Linked DNA regions of Homo sapiens: region 2 is linked to region 1. Evidence: fine-mapped expression QTL. Tissue or cell type: blood mononuclear cells. Region 1 holds a variant in brackets; the other region holds the start of a gene. All regions are shown on one strand. Distances are between the middles of the regions. Region 1 overlaps XYLT1 (xylosyltransferase 1). Region 2 holds the start of XYLT1 (xylosyltransferase 1).

Region 1 (2,500 bases):
TCCTCCGGGGGCCAGGTTCCCATTTTCATGCCATTCCAGTTTGCTGAAAAGCCCTGGGGTGTCTCTGCCCCCAGGCAGGCTGGGCTGGCCTCACAGAGGTTTTCCATCTCTTAGTCGGCCTCCCTGATTTAAAGCCGCCTGTCAGATGTTGGAGATTAAGTTAGAAATCAGCCATTTGCGCTGAGTTTTGGAGAAGCTGCTGCCAAATGGGAACTCCTGAGTCTTTTCTTCTATATATAGTCTTTAGGGTGAGCTAACTGAAGTTAGCAGGGTTTATTTTAGGAGGTGTCTCCTTGGAGCGGAGTGTGGTGGGTTGGGCTGCCTGCCCGGGGAGCATTTGAAAGATTGCTTAGGCTGACATCCTGCAGGAAGATCTGCTGGCCTCTGACAATTCTGGAAGAAATATGCACTTTTTTCCTGCCTTTTCCTTTGTTTCTGGCAGCAAAGCAAAGGAGTGGTTGAAGGGCTATGTGCCCATTTAGCAGACAAAGCTGTTGAATCTCAGTAACTTTGCAAAGTGGTTGTGATAAAGCGGAGGTAAGACAGGTCCTCTCATTCCTTGTTTTGTATCCCTTGTGGTAAAAGTTAAATTCCTTGAAATATTCTGTCTATGAAGAAATACTAAGAAAGTAGGGGATGGAGTGGGTTTTAATCTGAGCTTAGGAGAATACAGTATAAAGAGCTTGGACTTGAGAGTCATTCCTAGGTTCTAACCCCAGCTCAGCCTCTTACTGGTTCTGCAGCACTGGGCCAGTTACTTTTCTGCCTCAGTCTCAGTTTTCCTGGCTGTGAACTGGTCGTAATTTGCCTTACAGTGTTGTCGTGACGGTGAAAACATGAGTTACAAAGAGTTAAGGCCAGTGAAGTACCTGGCACCTAATACGTGCTTCATAAATGGCAGTTATTGCTTTATTTGAAGAAAAGGAAACTTTTAGCAACATATTCCTAGAAATTACCTCAATTAGAAGGAGACATCTTGCTAGAATACTAACTAGGATTTTAGGTTAAATTATGCAGTCATATATTAAAAGATCCACCTTTTGGGAAATATCCATTGACTGGTGACCTGGCAGAAGGAAACCTCAGGCTCATTTCTCTGCAAGGTCCTGGCCTCTTTGAGTAAGCCCAATAGACATAATCAAGATGACAGTGTATATTATTTAAAAGGTGATTATATTAAAGCATTTTTTGGTGAAAAAAAAAAGTCTTGGAACAAATAAATACCTATTTGGTATGGGAACTGCAGTCTCTTCCTCT[TTC/C]TCACACACACCCATGCATATTGTCCCTTCAACATTCGTGCCATTTGTTGTGTTTAATTATAGGGGAAGTGAAATCCTCTCCAAAGTTGCCTGCTAGTTAATTGCTGACGTTTCATTCTCGAACATTTATTGAGAATAAGCTCTGCCCCATGCCTAGTGGAGGAAACCCCCGTGACATTTGAGTACTGTAGACAGGTTTGACCTATTCCAATTCAACAAGAGAGAAAGAAGCAAGGGAGAAAAAGAGCAATGCAGATCATCTGGGTATCTTCTTTGTCCTCCAAAGCCTCAGTTCTTCCCTTTGTACAATGAGCACAGCTGGATTTAATGGGCTCCAGGTTCTTTGCTGCTCTTTGAGGCTGAAACTCAGGGGAGGTAAAGAAATTCTTTTGCTTGTTCTGAACCCCAGTGGGCTGATCCAGAGCTGCTTGTACACCCTCCCCTTTCTAGATGAGATGGTTCCAGCGTGAATGGGGATGCTCCAGTGCTTGAAACTCACAGGCATCACGTGGTTAAGCTAGAAATAGAAAATAAGTCATGTCTGGGTTTCGAGGACTCCCTGACTATTCTGGTTATGTTTGGAACAGAGCGTTTATGAGAGGCTGAACTGAATGGATGGGATCATAGCTTCCATTCCATGGAAGGCAGGGTCGTCCAGCTTTCCTGATGGGAATGTGTTTGTTGGGCAGGGGTGGGGTTGGGGTGATAAGCTTCTTGGGGAGTGAGCTAAATAAGCCATTCTCAAAGCCCTTCCCCTGAGAATAGAGCAGGCTGGCTGTCCCGCCAAACAAAGAGCCTGGATGTCTTGAACCACTGCAGTGATGGGAAGATTCTGCCATCCAGACAATGGGAACTCTATCGCCATGTCTAGCTGAGGACAGGGGGTTAGTGTCTGGCCTCATGAGGTCCCAACAGGTCTGTTTGATGGGCAGGTTAACAACATAGGCACTAGAACCAGGTCCTTCTTCCTGGCTGGGGGATCTTGGGTGAGTTATTAGTTAATCTGAGCCTTGACTATTCCATCTATAAAAACAAGACCCAGAATAGTACCTAATTTTGTGTGTGTGTGTGAGGCAGAGTCTCACTCTGTCACCTAGGCTGGAGTGCAGTGGTGCGATCTTGGCTCACTGCACCCTCCACCTTCCGGGTTCAAGCAATTCTCCTGCCTCAGCCTCCTGAGGAGCTGAGATTACAGGCATGTGCCACCATGCCCGGCTAATTTTTGTATTTTTAGAAGAAAT
Region 2 (3,004 bases), 93 kb before region 1:
TTCTTGGCGCTTACTCCCGTCCTGCCCTCATGAACCCTTAGCATTTTTGCACATCTCTACAGCAATGCTTATCTCACCATATATATATATATAATATTATATATATTTACATATAAATATATATATTATATATATGTTATATATTATATATTATATATATTATATGTACATATATATAAATATATTATATATAATATATTTATTATATACATTATATATAATATATATATATACAATATATATATATTTATATATACGTTTTTTAGATGGAGTCTTGCTCTGTAACCCAGGCTGGAGTGCAGTGGTGTGATCTCGGCTCACTGCAGCCTCTGCCTCCTGGGTTCAAGAGATTCTCCTGCCTCAGCCTCCTGAGTAGCTGGGATCAGGGGTGTGTGCCACCATGCCCGGCTAATTTTTGTATTTTTAGTAGAGACGGGGTTTCACCATGTTGGCAAGGCTGATCTCGAACTTCTGACCTCAGGTGATCCTCCTGTCTTGGCCTCCCAAAGTGCTGCGATTACAGGCATGAGCCACCGCGCCCAGGCCTATCTCACTATATTTTAATGATTAACATCCACATCAGGCTTCTCTAGACCTCAGGCTTGCTGAAGATGAGATTAAACCTCATTCACCTTTGGATGCGTGCACCTGGCCCAGTGTCTGACACAAGCTTTGTATTCACGGATGCTTGTGGAGTGGATGAAACAATCTCTTCCCACTCCCTGCCTCATTGTCTGATGAGCCTTCATTACACTCCACTTTCTTCTCTTTGTAAATTAGGATGAGGTGAAAAAGCACAGCAGACAAGATGCGAAGCATTCACGCCAAGTCCTCAATTCACAAACTGATTTGATCTGCTGTTGTATTCCCAGAGTGCTAGGTCCCGTATGGGACACCAACGCCATCCCATATGCTCACTGTTCTGCGCTGCTGTGTATAAAGCCCTGGGCAAGAGGACAAGGGAGGGAAAAACCAGAAAGACTGAGTCAGAGAAGGCTCGGGATGAAATTTGAGTCCATTGGGATCATTCTGCCTAAACGACAGAGGAGAAAGCTTGGGCTCAGGGAGGAGTCCTCCTCCTCCTGGCTCAAGGTCACCGGGACAGACCAGTCAGGATGGGAAAGAACTCCACTTTCAAGAGCAAGACCTGTTTCCCCAGGACCTGGGCCCTGTGCAGACAGGAAGGGGGACTTCAGGATGGATGGGGAAAAGGACACGCTGGGAGGCTGCGGGGCCAGCCTTTGGGGCTTGCATCCTGCGAAGGTTGAGTAACTCCACGGGTCTCCCTTTTGCCGCTATACCACTTGCCAACTGGGTTTGGAGTCTCTTGGCTTGTGAGTCCTCAGGGACCAGAGAAGTGACTCAGTGAACACTTAGTACATCGTTGGCACCGGGGATTGTGTGTGATTCAGGAGTCACTCACAGAGCTTGTGCTGATTAACTCCAGAAACTCACCCAAAGCCTCCTCCCCACCCCTTCAAGCCCAGGATGAAGGGATCAGACTGTGGCTCTGACACTCCTGAAATGTTTCTCACGTGTCCACCTGCCAACCGGTCTGGTACCGACAGAAGATCCCTGGACCGCGAACTCCGGGGCTAGGAGCTTCCTCCACGCACTGCCTCCTTCCAGCGGCCCACAGGGAAAACAGGACCTCGGGACCCCCTCTCTTCCTGACCTCCCCTGGATTCTGAGCGGGCCCACCCTCAACCAAAGGTCCCCTGTTTCGCGGCCCCTGCCTCTCTTTTTCCGCCTTGGGAATTGTCCCCCTCGCCCCCCATCCTACTCCCACTACGTCCTGAGGGGTGTCTGTCTTCTCTGATCGCCCCCACCCCCTTCCTTTCCCTCCTCCTTTTCCTCCCTCGGCTCCTCCCCCAGGCCCCGCCCTCTCCGCCTCGGCCCGCGTCCCCCCGGCGCCTTCCCCATCACCCTCCCCTCCAGCGGGGACAGGGGTGTGGGGAGGGGGGCGGCGGCGGCGGCCCGAGCGGGAGCCCGAGCGGCAGCCGGCGGCCGCGGGAGCTGCGGGGAGCGCGGGGGCGGCCCGGAGCGTGCCGGGGTCCCCGCGCCTCGCTCGCCGGCCGCGCTCCGAAGATGGTGGCGGCGCCGTGCGCCCGGAGGCTGGCCCGGCGCTCGCACTCGGCGCTGCTCGCGGCGCTCACGGTGCTGCTGCTGCAGACGCTGGTCGTGTGGAATTTCAGCAGCCTCGACTCCGGGGCCGGGGAGCGCCGCGGGGGCGCAGCGGTCGGCGGCGGGGAGCAGCCGCCCCCGGCCCCGGCCCCGCGCCGGGAGCGCCGGGACCTGCCCGCCGAGCCGGCTGCAGCCCGAGGAGGAGGAGGAGGCGGCGGCGGAGGAGGAGGAGGACGGGGGCCCCAGGCGCGGGCGCGGGGAGGCGGCCCCGGAGAACCGCGGGGACAGCAGCCGGCCAGCCGGGGGGCACTGCCCGCCCGGGCTCTGGTAAGATGCCCTTTCGGCTCGCGCCCCGCGGCGAGGGAGGGAGGAAGGCAGCCCGACCCCACGCCCCCCTAGCCCTTGAACTCGGTCATCAGACTGGGACTCTGCAAGCCTACCGACTCCACATCGCCTCTTGCCCCGGGAAGCCGGGTGGGGTCCCTGCCAAGGCTCAGGGGTCGTGGGCTGCCCCTTTCAGAGTCTGAGCACGGACCCCTTGGGGTCTGGGGGAAGTTTTCTCCAGCGGGGGCGCTTTGGGGGTTACCGGAGCCTGGCTGGGTTCCTGTTCCCCATCACTCTTGCTGGGGACCCCAGGTGACTTGCTCCGTGCGTGTAGGTCTTGGTGACTCGCTCCCTGCCTGAGTGAGTGGATCTCCCCGGATCCTCAGCCGCTGTTCCTGGGCGGTTGTCGCAGCAGCATCTCTCTGGTTTTTGCCGAGCTGGGTGCAGACAGTTGAGCCCTCTGTTCGTCCTGGCCTGCGATGAGGGCTGAGCTGGGCGTCCCAAGTCCCCGACCATGCCCCTGAATCAATACTCAGTCCGGGGTGTCTGGTCTTAC

The links.
Region 2: XYLT1 starts here. The variant in region 1 is fine-mapped to the expression of XYLT1 in blood mononuclear cells (TOPMed, PIP above 0.99). The same link has a PIP of 0.9 or more in whole blood.

Annotation. Positions count from the first base shown.
Region 1 is chr16:17,377,006-17,379,505 of GRCh38, reverse strand. All of the region lies in intron 1 of XYLT1 (xylosyltransferase 1), which reads left to right. Among named protein-coding and RNA genes, the nearest start is that of XYLT1, 93 kb to the left of the region's middle. The variant TTC/C (reference allele first, on the strand shown) is at 1,258.
Region 2 is chr16:17,469,881-17,472,884 of GRCh38, reverse strand. XYLT1 (xylosyltransferase 1) reads left to right here and starts at 1,925. Exons shown (of 12, transcript NM_022166.4): 1 at 1,925-2,451. The coding sequence starts at 2,089. It overlaps LOC107987234 (a long non-coding RNA gene), which reads left to right and starts at 2,458. Exons shown (of 2, transcript XR_001752091.2): 1 at 2,458-3,004. LOC105371106 (a long non-coding RNA gene) reads left to right here. Exons shown (of 3, transcript XR_933144.3): 3 at 781-1,878. RefSeq lists enhancers at 1,430-1,931, 2,706-2,755, 2,876-3,004.